2 separate regions of the Homo sapiens genome follow, and region 2 is linked to region 1. Evidence: fine-mapped expression QTL. A gene starts in region 1. The other region holds a variant in brackets. All regions are shown on one strand. Distances are from middle to middle. Region 1 holds the start of SULT1C2 (sulfotransferase family 1C member 2). Region 2 has its middle 27 kb from the start of SULT1C2.

The links. PIP is the estimated chance that this variant, and not a neighbour inherited with it, causes the effect.
Region 2: its variant is fine-mapped to the expression of SULT1C2 in transverse colon (GTEx, PIP 0.99).

The regions. Positions count from the first base shown.
Region 1 is chr2:108,285,005-108,293,343 of GRCh38, reverse strand. SULT1C2 (sulfotransferase family 1C member 2) reads right to left here and starts at 4,449. Exons shown (of 8, transcript NM_001056.4): 1 at 4,274-4,449.
Region 2 is chr2:108,311,489-108,319,827 of GRCh38, reverse strand. It overlaps the pseudogene SULT1C2P2. Among named protein-coding and RNA genes, the nearest start is that of SULT1C2, 27 kb to the right of the region's middle. The variant A/T (reference allele first, on the strand shown) is at 3,697.

The DNA.
Region 1 (8,339 bases):
TTGTGAATGTCTTATTAATTAAGCTTAATCTTATGCTTAATTGAAAGCTTGATCCAAAGCTTAATCTCTTCAAGGCTCATCCGTGTTGTAGCATGTGATGGGATTTCCTTCCCTAGTTCACTGTAGATATACACCTTTCCTTTTTTTTTTTTTTTTTTTTTTTTGAGACAGAGTCTCACTCTGTTTATCCAGGCTGGAGTGCAATGGCATGATCTCTGCTCACTGCAACCTCTGCCTCCAGGGTTCAAGCGATTCTCATGCCTCAGCCTCCTGAGTGGCTGGGATTACAGGTGCCCGCCACCATGCCTGACTAATTTTTGTGACTTTAGTAGGGACCGAGTTTCGCCATGTTGGCCAGGCTGGTCTTGAGCTCCTGACCTCAGGTGATCCACCCACCTTGGCTTCCCAAAGTGTTGGGATTACAGGCGTGAGCCACCGTGCCCAGCCTATATTTTGTTTACCCAGTCATCTATTGATGGAAACTTTTGGCTGTCATGAATTAGGTCTCTGTGAACATCGATGTACAAATATCTCTTTGAATTATTGCTTTCAATTTTTTTTGGTATATACTCAGAAGTGAAATTGCTAGATCATCTGGTAATTCTATGTTTAATATTTTGAGGAAATGTTACAGCATCTTCCACAGCAGCTGCACCATTTTACATTTTTACAAGCAGTGCACAAGGGTTCCAGTTTTTCCAAATTGTCATCAACACTTGTTGTTTCTTGTGTTTTTTGTTTGTTTTTTTGGTTTTGATAATAGCCATCCTAATGGTTGTGCGGTGATAAATAGCTCATTGGGGTTTTGATTTGCATTCCCCTAATGTCTAATGATGTTGAGCATCTTCTCATGCTTATTGGCCATTTGTGGGAGAAATATCTGCTTTGCCCAGTTTTGCATTGTGTGTGTGTGTGTGTGTGTGTGTGTGTGTGTGTGTGTGTGTGTGTGTTGTCATTGTTGTATTGAGGGAAGACTTTTAAATGCACCAAAAGGAGAAAGCAGAAGATGTAAATCACTGTTACTCAAGGATAACTGGCTACTGGGGTTCCAGAAGACATTTATTACTACTACTACTAATGAAATAGTAGTTAAAAGCTAACATTTATCGAACACGTCAATTTGCCAACGCTGGGCTGAGGCCTTGTATACATTAATTTATTTTAACTTTTGCTGAAAATGAGTGATAGAACTTCGGAGCTGAAAGGGTCCTTACAGAAAATGTAACAGTACATGCTTGCTAGAGGTTGAATAAAATAATCTGGCCCAGCTGCTTCATGGAATGGATGAGAAAACTAGGTGCCCAGATTAGTGAGGGCAGTTTTCATGGTGGCTTCTGCTTCCAGATTGAGCTGAGCCCTTTAAGATGAAGACAATTTTTGGAAAACGAAAGACAAATTATTTATGAAAATTTTCAAATATGAGAAGCAGTTGTATTTATAATACATCAAAGAAGGTGGAGTTTGGACAGTACTCCTGAGATAATGGTATGATCAAATTCAGGAGAGGAGGGATAAGAACAAACATTTCTTGCAGGCCTTCTATGTTAGGTCCTTCGTGGACTTTTCTTTTTCTTTCTTAATTCATATGACAATTTTATTAGGAAGGAATAATTATCACCCTCATAAATGTGAGGAAGCTGAGAGTCACACGATCAATAACTTGCCCAGGATCGCAGCCAACATCTGTATACGAATCCTATGTTCCTTCTTTAAAAATTGCCTCTTGTTTTTTTTTATTGTGAATTTAAAGTTATACATTGCAGAAACTTTGGAAACAGTCCAAATGTACAAGGAAAACATCTATCACACAAGAGTTGTTATTATTTTGATGTATTTCTATCTGTCTTTTTCAAATGTATATTGTTGTAGGCAGAATAATGGCCCTAAAGATGTCCACGTCCTAATTCCTAATACATTACATTGTGTGGCAAAGGGCTTTGCAGATGGAATTTAGGTTAAGAACCTTAAGGCAATGAGCATGTCCTGTATTATCCCGGTGGGTCTAATGTGACCACAAGGGCACTTAAAAGTGGACAAGGGTGTAGAAGAGCAGTCAGAGAGTCGTGTGGCAGAAGAAGTGGCTGGAGAGTTTGGAAGCATGAGAATGACTCAACTTGCCATTGATGGCTTAGAGACAAAGGGGAACACAAGACAAGGCATGACCTCCAGAAGCTGAGAATGAACCTCAGCCAACAAGCAAATGGGACCTCCATCCTACAGCCACATGAATCTGAATTCTGCCAACAACCAGAATGAGCTTGGAAGGGATTCTTCTTCAGACCCTCCAGAAGGGAACGCAGCCCTGCCAACACCTTGATTTTACCCAGAGACACCTGTTTGGACTTCTGACTTACAGAGGTGTGAGATAATAAACTTGTATTGTCTTAAGCTGCTAAATTTTTGATAATTTGTTATGGCAGTGATAGTGATAGAAAACTGTTTATACATAGTTATGAACAAAAAGTATACATATATATAAACATAAAACTACAAAACACTTTTTGGATACTGCTGTGGTTTGGATGTGGTTAGTCCCCACCAAAACTCTCTGTTGAAGTTTAACTGCCAGTGTGGCAGTGCTAGGACACGGGGTCTTGTGAGAGGTGTTTGGGCCATAAGGGTGGATTCCACATGAGTAGATTAATGCCATCTCCCAGAAGTGGGTGAGTTTGGTCCCTTTATACATGCCTGCTTGCCTTTCTATTTCTTCACCATGTCTTGATGCAGCATGGCCCTCACGAGAAGCTGAGCAGATGCCAGCACCATGCTCTTGGACTTTTCAGCCACCAGAATCATGATTCAAAATAAACCTCTTATATTTATAAATTACCCAGCCTCAGGTATTTTGTTATAGCAACATAAAATGGACTAAGACGGACATTATCGTGGTTTGAATTGTGTCTCTCTAAGTTCATATGTTGAAGTCCTAATTCATAGTATATTAGCATGTGGCTGTATTTGGAGATAATGTCTTTAAATAGGTGATTAAGTTAAAATGAGGCTGCTAGGATGAGACCTATTCCAATCTGGTATCCTTGTAATGAGAGGAGATTAGGACACACAAGGCAACACCAGGGATGTGTGCACATGGAGGAAAGACCATGTAAGGACACAGTGAGAAGGTCCTCCATAGGGTGGGGGTGAGGGGATGGTGAGTCCAATTCTGGGGTTGAGTCTGATGTATTTATGGGACTTCCCAATGTACACCTGTAGGCAGGTGTACATGTGAGCTTAGGGCTCTGGCCTTGAACTAATGCCCTGAGAATAATCCACGCAACACATTGACCAACTCTGTGGTAGGCGTTGTGCTCTGGGCAGGTAGCTGATGACCGAGGGCCTGGGCACAGCTGTGAACATGTGTGGAAGGGCACCTGCTGCTGCTGAGGACCAGGGCGGTTAAGGGCTTGGCTGTCCAGTGAACTATGGATCCCACTGTATTGCTCTTGTTGGAGGCCTGCACGGGGAGTGATAGAACCTGGCTAAAGCTGGGAGAAGGAGATGCAGCAAGAGATTGAGGCAGCTGGGTAGTGCAGTGGGAGCAGAGGGATCTGCCAGTTCCCACAGGAGAAGTCCCAAGTCCTTCTCACCCTCCCCAGGCCCCTCATTGCTGGGCCACATCAGCACATGGTTCCTGCCCTTGGAGAGTCAGGCATGTAGACACATACATTTCCCCTTGAGCAGCCAGCAGGGACATTTTCATCATATCAGGCCAGATCACTATGGCCTCCTTTGTGGAGGCATCCCTGACTCTGTAAACAGAAGTAATCACTCCTTTCCATGGGATCCTATAGTATTTTGTGTGCAAATTTTATAGGTCTTACTCCACGTCCTACAATTACTTGCTTATAAGTCTGGACCCTTGGAGCACAGGATCTGGTTCAGTCCCCTTGCAGGCCCAGCATGTGTCTTAGTCAATGGCTGGCATAAGAGGAGGGCTGTCATGGAAGAAGAAATAGTCTTGGCCAGAGAAGTTGAGCTGGCCCTGGAGGAGGATGGGACAGGGAGGGTATTTGGGAAAAGATCAGGGTGGGAGACAGAGATAGTATTACAGGAGAGAGAGCTTTTGGAGGTGATTTGAGGGGGGTCCTGAATTTCTAGGTCTGAATTTTTAGGCTGGAGGCTGTTAACAAAACTCTTTTATATTATTTTATCAGATTCTTAGGATCTTTTCTGGTTTGAATAAATGCATCTGTAAAGCCACACCTATGTGGCTAAAGGTTAAAAAATAAATTAACGAGTTAGGTACAGAATTTCTTTTAAGCCATATTCTTACCTTCAAGTTCCAGCTGAAAGTCAGCAGCTCAAAGGCCCACTCAAGGGTCAGTGGGCACGGAAAGGACTTTCACAGGAAGCAGACGGCAATTGCAGAGGCTCAAATTACTACTGTGTCAGAGTTACGGGGGCGCTCAGCAGGTAGCCAGCACTTTGGGAGGCTCTCAGCTTCAGTGTGGGAAGTTGAAGCTTTTACTGGAAGAATCCGGATTGAACAGAAACAAACCCTGTGACCTGGCCCTGGGAGGGAGAACTTCTCACTGTACCATGATCACTCATGTGACCCTGACTGCTGTGCAAATACCAACTCCCTCTAGTTCATATGAACTAAGGGCACACTCTACTCCTCCTCTCGGTCACCAGCTAGAGTTTTTCACATCTTTCCTGGCCCTCAGCTGCCTGGCCCCTCCCTCCTCCCACTGGCCTCGAAGCTTAAACAGGTGGGGGCTGGGGGGAAATGGAAGGTTGGCTCTAGGACCAGATGCATCAGGCTTCAGGTAGGCTCCTGCTTATTTGGTGAACTCCCTTTTCCTTCCTCCTTAGCCTGAGATTTAATTTCTGCATCTATGAAGTGTGGGTAATACTGCCTGTCTCCAATCCATGCTTTAAGATTGAAAGCAACAATGTTGATGAATACACTTTGCAGAGCAAATAGTAAGTGCTTAAAACTGCTGGTTCTTCTTTCCTTTCTTCCCAAGTTGTATTCATCCACACCGAAAATGCAGAGAGGATAGAACAAAAGTCTAGAGCTTAGGTGTGTACTTATTTTTTCTTTGCCTTATTGTACAAAAGGTACACTTTAGTGGAGGCAGATTATATTCCATGGTGTCTTTGGTTACCTGGGAAATTAAATGGATCAAGTGTTAATGATCTCTGAACTGCTACTCTTCTGCCAGCCCCAACCTTGTATCTACCCCAGTGCTTTCCTTTCTGGAATTGAAGCATAATTCTGCACCCCATCTGCCCTTCTTGCCAAAGCTTTCCTTGTCTTCTTTGACCCTGAACCTCCTAATGCTTCTTTGCCGACACTTCTTCTTCCTCCTTGTTTCCAAAGGGCTCTTTTTTTCCCAATAAATTGAACTTTCTTTTTCTTTCTTTTTTCTTTTTTTTTTTTTTTTTGAGATGGTGTTTCACTCCTGTTGCCCAGGCTGGAGTGCAATGGTGCAATCTTGGCTCACTGCAACCTCCGCCTCCCGGGTTCAAGCGATTCTCCTGTCTCAGCCTCCTGAGTAGCTGGGACTACAGGCGTGCGCCACCATGCCCAGCTAATTTTTTTTTGGTATTTTTAGTAGAGACGGGGTCTCACCATGTTGGCCAGGCTAGTCTCCAACTCCTGCTCCCAGGTGATCTGCCCGCCTTGACCTCCCAAAGTGCTGGGATTACAGGCATAAGCCACTGCGCCCGGCTGAACTTTATTTTTCTACTTCTGCTCTCTTTCCAGTTCCACTTATCCCAGTGCTGTCAATTTTCAGCCCCATAGGGCTGATTCACAGTTCTTAGTGCAACCTCACATTTTCTCTGCAGTTAAAGTCCCTAAGTCTACTAAAGTGTCTGCCAGTATCGGTGCCATGCTGCGCTGCATGCTGCATCTCCCTGCCTTTGCTGTCTGCATGGGTCACAGTCTCTACAATCCCAGAATTTACAGTTAGTAACCACTGCTAGTATCTGCTTCCTCCACATTTGTGGAGGATGAACTGGGATGTTGCACAATCTTCTAGCAGTCTCCTTATTTCTGGTCTCTTCCCTACTAGTCTCTCATACTTTCAGCATATAAATTAAGCTCAGCTCAGATCAGGCTATCCTTTGGTTGTTTATGGCTCAAATTCTGGGTGCTTCCACTTGGAATTCAAGACCTTCTAAATTCATTAATTCTTATTTTTTATAAGACAGGGTCTCACTCTTTTGCCCAGGCTGGAGTGAAGAGGCATGATCATAGCTCACTGCAGCCTTGACCTCCTGAGCTCAAGTGATCCTCCTACTTCAAGCCTCCTGAATGCCTGGCTCAAGGCCTTCTTTAATATAACACCATCCCCACCATGGGCCCCACACACCAGGTGAACTGAATGACTTACTGTCCCCTGTATGCATCCTATAATTTCCTGCCTCCCTGGTTTACTCCTGTTTCTCCCTGCCAAAAATGCTCTTACTCTTAGCCTGGCACACTGCTGTGCACCTGTAATCCCAGTTACTTGAGTCCAGCCTGGGCAACATAGTGAGATCCCATCTCTAAAAAAATGTTCTTACTCTGTTTCCATAGAGTCAGATTCTTCAGCTTTGAACCCATCTTTTCCTTGAAGCCTTTCCTTAGGTTATAGCTGGAAGCAATCTCTCTGTGAACTACCATATGCTTTTTTAAAAATAAGTTTTATTGAGATCAAATTCACATACTGTGCACTTCACCCAAGTGTACAGTTCAATGTTTTTAGTTGTGCAACCATCATCACACTCAATTTTGGAATATTTTCATCACCCCAAAATGAAACCCCATATTTATTAATAGTCATGCCTAATTCCTCCTACCACCATCTCCAGCTTTAAGAAACCAAAATCTACTTTGTGTCTCTATAGACTTGTCTATTGTGGACATTTTATATAAATTGAATCATACAATGTGTGGTCCATAGGATTAATTTGGCCTTCTCTTACAGCAATTTTCTGTTTTTACTTGAATGAGGAAATTAACTACCCTCCCAGTGTGTCGATTGGGGCCTATCTCTAAGACCACCTGTACCATGTACCCATTCAACTGGATTAATATACTTACTGAATGAATAAACAAATGAATGAAACAAAAACTTTAGTTTTCACCGGGACTGGGACTTGAATGAGGGAACTAAGGTGCAAAATGTAAGGAGACACTCGCTCCAGGGCCGTGCAAGAGAATGAATGCCTCCTTCAATGCTATGCCCTTACCTCACCCTAGTCCCTGCCCTGGTTTATACATAATCCATCCACATGGATTTTTCCCTGATTTGTGATTCATGTACCTCTGGAACTTTCTGAGCTGTTTCTGAGAACCAGGTAAAGTGTGCCTTCTTTGGAGTTAGGGGAATGTCTACACGGCAGCCTCTGTCCCGCTAGAAAGACCAAAGTCACTATTGCCTCCTGGAAGAGTTTTGTGAGGGATCTGATCATGGTTTTCAATTGGGAAAAGTAGCCAAGCTGCTTTGTGCCACTGGCACAAAGTGGAAGGTGCCTGTGTTCCAGCAGGCTGGCTTTGAGGAGCAGCGGGAGCAAAGGTCTCCCCCCGGGACATAGCCATTCCTTCTGGGTGCTATGTCCTACAGCTGCAACTGCTTCAGGCAAGCTTTGTAACACTTGCCTCAGTCACACAGATCCTTTGACCAAGTCCACAAGAGAGCAGATGAGCTCTTTCCTGCAGGTGGTGAGGTACTAGGTGGGCAAACTCTGACTCCTTTGTAACTTCATGGATCTCGCTTATTATCCAGGAAACTGGCTCAGCATTCTCCTGGCTTGTGCTCCCTTGTCGTTTAAATTTTTTTCCTTCTGTTTTTGACCATCCGCAATTCACATAATTACATGTCTCTCAAGCCATTTTTCTTACTTTGCAATGCTCATTGGCTTTAATTCTCCCTTTCTCTTTTCTTGTCTAATTCTTGTCCAGTCACCCAGGGAAAGATGGAACAAGTCTTTTTCTCCCTCACTTTCTACTATCTCCTTTCTTTCATATTCTCCTACTCATCCTTCCATTTGCTGACCCTGGCTCCACTCCAGCCATGGCTGATGGCTGTTGGCATGGGGATGTGGCACATTTGTATTAAGGAAGAGAGAAATCCTGAGACATGATTGACACAAAGTTAGAAATAATGAAGAATCACATTGCATTAGTTTCCCAGGGTTTCTGTACAAATTGGGTGGCTTAAGCTACAGAAACTTCTTGTTTCACAGCTCTGATAAGTAAAAGTCCAAGATCAAGGTGCAGTATGGGCTTCTTCTCGAGCTGTGAGGGAGAATCTGTTTCATGCTTCTTTCCCAGCTTCTGGTGGTTTGCAGGCACCACCCCAATCTCTGTCTTCATTGTGTGTGTCTGTGTCCAAATTTCCCCC
Region 2 (8,339 bases), 26 kb before region 1:
AATGGCCATTTTTGAGCTTAAAAAGGTCAGATATTGGCTGGCCTGTTCATGAAGTTATTGCCTCTCATGTCCTAGTTCACGTGTCTCAGGTTTTCTTTGAGATGCTGGGCTGGGACTGTGCCATCTGTGTTTCCACTGGGCCAGCTGGTGTGTCTTCTCTGAGTCTCTGCTCACAGGGAGACTGACAGACAAGAGGAGGAGTAGGGACTCGCTCCCTTTGCTGCCTTCTTGCTCCAGCGAGTGGTACCCCTGAGATAATTCACTTCCTGTAGCAGCAGCAGAGTCCAGTGTGCAGATCACTTCAGAGTCAGCGTCTTCACAGTGTCCTCAGGGACAGAGACCTGGCCAAGTTGTGCTCCTTCCCCAGGGGCGAGGGTTTTCTCCACACACCCCTCCTCCAAGATCCTATTTCAGTAATTCTCATCTTTCTGAAGTTGCTGCCTCTGTGATTCTTGAATGTTTGCTTTCTTTTTTGATACCAATTTCACATGACTCAACCTAGTATTTGCACATCTGAATTTAACAGTAAATCATAAATATAATGGTCACTCTAACAAAGGGAGAATATTGCTCCCTTTTCAGTGATAGACAGATGCTTGGCCTATCACTGAGATAGAGTAAGAGTAAGAGATTTATTGAGGGACAACGCTTGTGAGGGATAAATGAGCAGGGCTGTCAGAGCCTGGTGTAGTAGTAACCCTTGTGGAGAAGGGCAGGAAAGAGGGAAGGAAGGAAGACTGGGTAGGCAAAGTCTTAGACTGGTTTAGCTCTCAGAAAACTTTAGCAAAGCTGTCGGGTGGTTCTCCTGCCAAGCGCCCATCAGAGAAGATGCTCTTCCTGGGAAGGACAGGCCCAGGTGACGGGTGGAAGAACGTGGCCAGCTGACCTCAGGACCTCTAAACTTTCAGTGTGGCCTCAGGACCTCTAAACTTTGGTTTGGAGACTGAACCACCAGACTTTTGACAAGGTTCCACAGTTTCTGTTACAACTATTCAGTCAGTTTGTGAAGAATGTTGAACCCAGCTCCTTAGCTAACAAAACAATTTTATTTTCCGGGGGCATGCAGAGAGGAAAGGGTAATTTACAGTTCTTGCCTGAACAATTTGAGCAAGCTCAGGAAGTCATTTCTAGGGAAAAGCAGTGACAAGGGGAATAAAAACTGGAAGACAAGGTAATAAAAGTGCCCCTGTGTAGTATAGACTTTGTCTCTCTCTCTTTAGAGCTCCGTGTGGAAGGTCAGAGAAGAGTCAGCCATTTTCCTCCCTAGTCTTCATCAAATCTCTTATTCTGTGCTGCTGAGAAGTAATCCTTCCACTCTCCAACGGTCCCTGAAAAGCAATGCAATCGTGCTTGAGAGATTGGACGGGAAGTCTATTCTGAATGCTTTTTCCATAAAGTGAAACTTTAGAGATAATTAAAAAGTATGAATTCGTATTACAGGTACACATCACAGTCTATTTTCTTTCAAAGACGTATTAATATTTTGAGAAAACCTCAGAATTATTGGCAGCATCATGTTAGTTAAAAAGGTAATAAGGCTCGTCATGGTGGCTCATGCCTGAAATCCAAGCACTTTGGAGGTCAAGGTGGGAGAATTGCTTGAGCCCAGAAGTTCAAGACCAGCCTGGGCAACACAGTGAGACCCTGTCTATACAAAAAATAAAAAATTTAGCTGGGCATGGTGGTGTGTACCTGTGGTCTCAGCTACTTGGGAGGCTGGAGGTGGGAGGATTGCTTTAACACAGGAATTGAAGGTTGCAGTGAGCTGTGATTGCACCACTGCACTCCATCCTGGGTGACAGTGAGTTTCTATCTTTTAAAAAAATGAATAAAAAGGAAAAAACGTATTAATATTCTTTCCCAAAATACTAATTATGTAATAATATGGTTCTCAAGGAAATTCATGATGGTTGGCAGGCAGCTTTCCTCATAAATGGGGAGATGGAGTGGTCCATGATGTCACAGGTTATCATTACATAGTTGGTCATCTGGTTTTTCTTCTTACTTTCAAAAGATGTGTGCTGAACAATTCTTTTGACAGGATCTTCATCTAGTTTATTCCCCATAAATTCCATTATCCTTTTGAACTTCATGTTCTGGGTTCTGTTGAGTGGGGAAGGGCAACAAGTAGTCATTAGGGGATTTGGGGGAGAGAACAAGGGAAAGCAAGGAAAACAAATCTGGGAAAAGTTATTTCAATTCTCTTCATCTCGGTATTTGTGATATTGTTGATCTTGCTCACCTAAACTTTACCTGTTGTGCCCAGCACTGCAGCTGTGTCTCTGATGTGAGAAACTTCCCACCAGCAGAAGGATCTGGAACTCAAGGCCTGCTGTGCAGATTCTTTTGTCCCATGAGGTGATCACTTGATGTGGTGTTCTCCCCCTTCCCCTGAGAGCTGGACTTCAGTGATTATTACTGCTCTTCTGGGTCTAGCCACTCAGCGGGGCTACCAGGCTCTTGTCTGGTGCTGGGGAATATCTACAAAGAGTCCCGTGATGCGACCCATATTGAGGTCTCCCAGCAGTGGATACCAGCACCTGCAGGGGTGGAAGTGGCAGGGAAGTGATGTAGACTCTGAGATTCCTTGGCTGTAGAATACGTTTAGTGTGCAGGCTTTCTCAAATGTTGGTTATGCTAGCAGTGAAGTTGTCATGTGGGCAGACTCAGGACCAGGGTGTTGCAGGCAGTGGTGTTAGCTGTTGTTTTCTTCTTCCTGGCAGCAGTGTTTTTCTGCCAAGGGTTGCTGTAATGGTCTGAGTTGAATGGCTTCCAGCCCTGAGGTGGAATTTGCAAGAGAGCTCCTGCTGCAGTAGTAGTAGTGGGACATAAGCTTGCTCTAAGTTGACCAGGGTAAGTATTCTTGTTCTCAGCTGATGGGTGGGACCATAAAGCTCCCAAGAGTTTATGTCTTTTGTGTTATGCTACCAGGGCCAGTAGAGAAATACCATCGGTTAGGGGCAGGGTTAGGCGGGTCTGAGCTTTTGGGCGGGGCTTGCCGCGGCCACTGTGGGGGATGCAGGGGTGGTTCTCAGGCTAATGGGATTATGATCCAGAGGGGAGTATGGCTTTCTCTGCTGTGCAGCAGAATTCGTCGGGGGAGTGGGGGATAGCCGGTAGCGAGAGGCCTCACCCAGCTCCTACACAGTTGGTGAGGTCAGTCTCACTCCTGCAGCGCACTGCTAACAGCGCCTAGTTTAGATCCAGGCAGCCTGCGCACAGAACTCAGACCTGGCTCAGTCCATAGGCTTCCCTGCTGAGAAAGCAAGCACAGCTTTCCTCCTTCTTTTTTATAAATTGACCTTCATTAATACCTCACATAGTTAGGCCATGGTATTCTTTTGTTGAAAATCTATGTTAAGTATCCTCTTGAGGGGACAGGAAATGCTAGAAGTTATCTGCACTTCCCCTGTGTTTTTAGTATTCCCCGTTTCGAAATGATTGGCCAGCTCGTCCTTTGATGAGTGGGAGAGGTGGGAAGAAGGAGAGGGAAAGGTGTGGCTGGGTGAAGAGAGGCAGGAAAGGGCAAGGCTGAATGGCCACAGACCAATCTCTATTCTGTGACCCTATTGATGCCCTTGACTAGGCATGTTCCCAGACCAAACCGAGGGTCAGGCTGCTTATTCTCACGGCCCAGTAACGAGATGCAGATGAACTAGGAAAGAAGAGAGTTTAATTCTGTAACTGGGTACAAGG[A/T]GAAGGCCTGGAAAATATTGCCAGATCAGCTCAAAATTACAGTTTTTCAGGGATTATATACCTTCTAAGCTATATGTTTACATTTAAGTGTGTATTCATCCAAAGACATAAGTGATTAACGTCTTCTAATCTATAGTTACGGTCTGAGTTTCGAAGAAGACCTTCCTCTGGAGCCTCAGTAAATTTACTTAATCTAGATGGGTCCAGGTGCTAGGGTAATTACCCTTATCTTGTCTCCTGCTAAATTATGGAGGTTTATGGAGTTCCTTTAGACCCACAATAAAACTTGTTTGTGGAGGTCTGGGGAGTTTCTTTAGACCCCCAATAAAAACTTGTTTAATCTTTATGGGTCCTGTTAAGAATTCCTTCATTATTTGTCATTCCTGTCAAGGCCCAGGAAAGGCCCAGGCAAAACTCTTTGTGGGCTTTTGTTACATTCCAGCCTTTGTATAAGGGCACTGGTTCTTTCAGCTTTTAATATTTAACCACTCAGTCAGTGCTGAAACAGTTGTTATGGAGGCCTGCCTCTTCAGCTGTTAATGAGACCTGGCCTGCCACAGGCAGAGTGGAGAATACCACACCAGTCACTCTGACAAACACTTGACAACCTGACCAGCATTGGGCTAATCTCTGAGATCTCTGACTTGCAGCAACCTGCTTGGGTGAGTCTACTTCTGTATTATTAAGACATTAACTAAATTGTGTCCTTTGGGTCAGATATATTGCTGCATATGAGAAACACTCCTGATAGAGAATCTGTTAAATGTCTCAGGCCACATTTTTCTTTTCAGAGAGATCTGTGAATCTCTGATAGTTTGCTTGCTGATCTGAGGCTTGGTCATCTTAATCTTTTCCTATTACTCTTCCTCTTGTCATGAATCTCCAGTGGTACTTAAAGAGTATACTAGGCACTAAAGAACCGTGTCTGCAATTAAAATGAAAAAGACCAGGCACAGTGTCCCATGCCTGTAATCCCAGTGCTTTGGGAAACCAAGGTGGCAGGATTGTTTGAGGCCAGGAGTTTTAGACCAGCCTGGGCAACATAGTGAGACCCCGTCTCTACAAAGAGTAAGAAATAAAAATTAGCCAGGTATGATGGTACACATCTGTGGTGCTAGCAACTCAGGATGCTGAGCTGGGAGGATTGCTTGAACCTAGGAGGTTGAGGCTGCAGTGAGCCACGATTGTGACACTACACTCCAGCCTGGGCAACAGAGTGAGACTTTGTCTTAAATTTTTTTTTTTTTTTAATAAGGAGTGAGTATCCTGCTGGTCAACCTGAAATTCTACTTCCTGCTTTTGTAACCAGGTGTGAGAGGCTGAGGGAGGAGGTTCCCTTAACCCTTAACCCTGGAAGTCTCCACACCCATGAACAATTCCCAGCCCTCTCAACTGGAACAGTGTGGCTCCCACCCTTGTGCTGTGTGTATGGCACAGACACAGTAGACATATTGACATGGTAGTCTGAGTGTTTCACCATCTATCTTGGAGCCTGCAGGGGCTTCCTGATGCTCCTAGGATAAAGTCTAACATTCTGCCATGACCATCAAGGCCCCATGTGACATGCCCGGCTCTCTTTGGGGCCCCATTTTGTCAGTTCTCCCTGAGCTTGTAGCTCTTCCCCTCATAGCCCTTCCTTCTTGCCCTGAGACAGGCCCGCCTCACCAAGCCTGCTCCTGGGTCTCCTTCTCTCTGCCCAGTCTCTTGCCTAGTTAAAGCCAGCACATGCTTCACACCTAGGAAGGACCATGTCCTCTCAGGAAAGCTGTGCCTCAGGCCCCAGTCTCAGCTGATCTGCTCTGGCCTCTCGAAGCCTGAAACCATCTCACATGGCACTCTCCTCGGTTGGTGACATGTGTCACGACTTAGTGGACTTTTGCTTCACATGCTAGACCATGAAATCCATAGGGGAAGGGCTTTGCTCACCACTGTATCCCCATCATTCACACAGTACCTGGCACATAGTACGTGTACTATTGAGAATGAATGAATGACTGAATGAAGAATGGCTGTAACTCTTAAGAGGAAAGAAACATAAAATCATTTCTTTTTAGCTGTTGGTACATACTTATGGTGCAGGTATATGTGGGGAGAGGGTGTGCTAGGGCTCTTTGCATCTTAGCTTGAATACTGAATTTCCTGGGGCTAGTTCTATTTCTTGCATCTCTGTTCTTGTTAGATTGGTCCCTCCTTGCTTGAGTTGTGGACAACTGGTCGAGTTGCAAAACACTGTGCTTTACCATCATGGTGGCTTTTCATTCTTGACCCTGATTCTAACGTGTTCCAGTTGCCATGTAGTTTCTACTGGTTGTTGGAAGCCTGAATTTAAATGTGATTTGTGGGTGTTTGAAAAACTCACAGTCCCATGTAATCTCACAGCATTAAACTTCAAAGCTCTTTGAAATACTAAACCTCAAAGTCGGCATGTTTAGGTCCTAGCTAGTGAAGAAAAGGAAGCAGAAAGAGTTTAAACCAAATGACAAAGATTATTTTCTTGACCAAACTTTAGTAAGGTTCTTAACATATCTCCTATACCCCTCTGTGTAATTCTTTGAAAAATCCAGTTTTTGCAAGAAAACTATTAAGTCAATATAGCAGGAACTCCCTACCCCCAACATCTGATCAGGTTCTTCATCCTCCACCACCACCCAGGTAATATCTAATCACCCTGGCCTATCTTTAGCAAGAATCCTGTTGGATCACTGTAGCCAGAACCCATCCCTTTCCTTACCGATGATGTTTCCTCTTAGGGATTTTCTATCCCTCCTTCTCCACCCTTCTGCATGGCTATAAATTCCCACTTGCCCACGTTATATTAAGAGTCGAACACAATCTCTTCCACTGCCAGACTCCATTGCCATGGTCCCTACACCTATGGAGATGGTCCTGACTAAAATCTGCCCTACTGTGCTTTAATAAGTGTCATTGAATAATTTTTTCTTTAACAGGACCAACCAATCAACCAACCAACCACCAACCCACCAACCAACCAACCAATTAAAAGTCAGAACTCATTTTATCATTTGGGATCATAGCTGACCCTGGAGTGAATGTTTTTTTTTTTTTTTAACTATCTTTATATTAGTCCATTTTCATGCTGCTGATAAAGACATACCCAAGACTGGGTAAATTATAAAGAAAAGAGTTCAATGGACTTACATTTCCACATGGCTTTGGAGGCCTCACAAGCATGCAAGTACTAAAGAACTGTGTCTGCAATTAAAATGAAAAAGACCAGGCACAGTGGCTCATGCCTGTAATCCCAGTGCTTTGGGAAACTGAGGCGGGAGGATTCACAAGCATGGTGGAAGGTGAAAGGCATGTCTTACGTGGCAGCAGACAAGAGAAAATGAGAGCCAATTGAAAGGGGAAACCCCTAATAAAATCATCAGATCTCATGAGGCATATTCACTACCAAGAGAATGGTATGGGGGAACTGCACCATGATTCAATTATCTCCCACCAGTCCCCTCCCCCCAACACGTGGGAATTATGGGAGCTACAATTCAAGGTGAGATTTATGTGAGGACACAGCCAAACCATATCATTCCTCCCCTGCCCCCTCCCATATCTCATGTCCTCACATTTCAAAACCAATCATGCCTTCCCAACAGTTCCCCAAAGTCTTAACTCATTTCAGCATTAACTCAAAAGTCCATAGTCCAAAGCCTCATCTGAGACAAGGCAAGTACCTTTCACCCATGAGCCTTAAAATCAAAAGCAAGTTAGTTACTTCCTAGCTACAGTAGGGGTACAGGCATTGGGTAAATATAGCCATTCCAAATTGGAGAAATTGGCTAAAACAAAGGGGCTATAGGCTGCATGCAAGTCTGAAATCCAGTGGGGCAGTCAAATCTTAAAGCTCCAAAATGGTCTCCTTTGACTACATGTTCACATCCAGGTCACTCTGATGCAAGAGGTGGGTTCCCGTGGTCTTGGGCAGCTCTGCCCCTTTGGCTTTGCAGGGTACAGCCTCCCTCCAGGCTGCTTTCACAGGCTGACATTGAGTTCCTGTGGTTTTTCCAGGTGCACTGTGCAAGCTGTCGGTGGACCTACCATTCTAGGGTCTGGAGGATGGTGGCCCTCTTCTCATGGTTCCACTAGGCAGTGTCCCAGTGGGGACTCTTTGTGGGGGCTTCAACCCCACATTTCTCTTCTGCACTGGCCTAGAGGTGGTTCTCCATGAGGAGCCCTCCCCTGCAGCAAACTTCTGCCTGGACATCCAGGCATTTCCATACATCCTCTGAAATCTAGGTGGAGGTTCCCAAACCTCAGTTATTGACTTCCATGCACCTGCAGGCTCAATGCCACATGGAAGCTGCCAAGGCTTGGGGCTTGCACCCTCTGAAGCCATGGCCTGAGCTCTACGTTGGCCTCTTTCAGCCATGGCCGGAGTGGCTGAGATACAGGACACCAAGTCCCTAGGGTGCACACAGCAGGGAAGGCCCTGGGCCCAGCCCATGGAACCATCTTTTCCTCCTAGGCCTCTGGGCCTATGATGGGAGGGGCTGCCATGAAGGTCTCTGACATGGCCTGGAGATATTTTCCCCATTGTCTTGGTGATTAAGATTTGGCTCCTTGTTATTTACGCAAATTTCTGTAGCTGGTTTGAAATTCTCCCTAGAAAATGGGTTTTTCTTTTC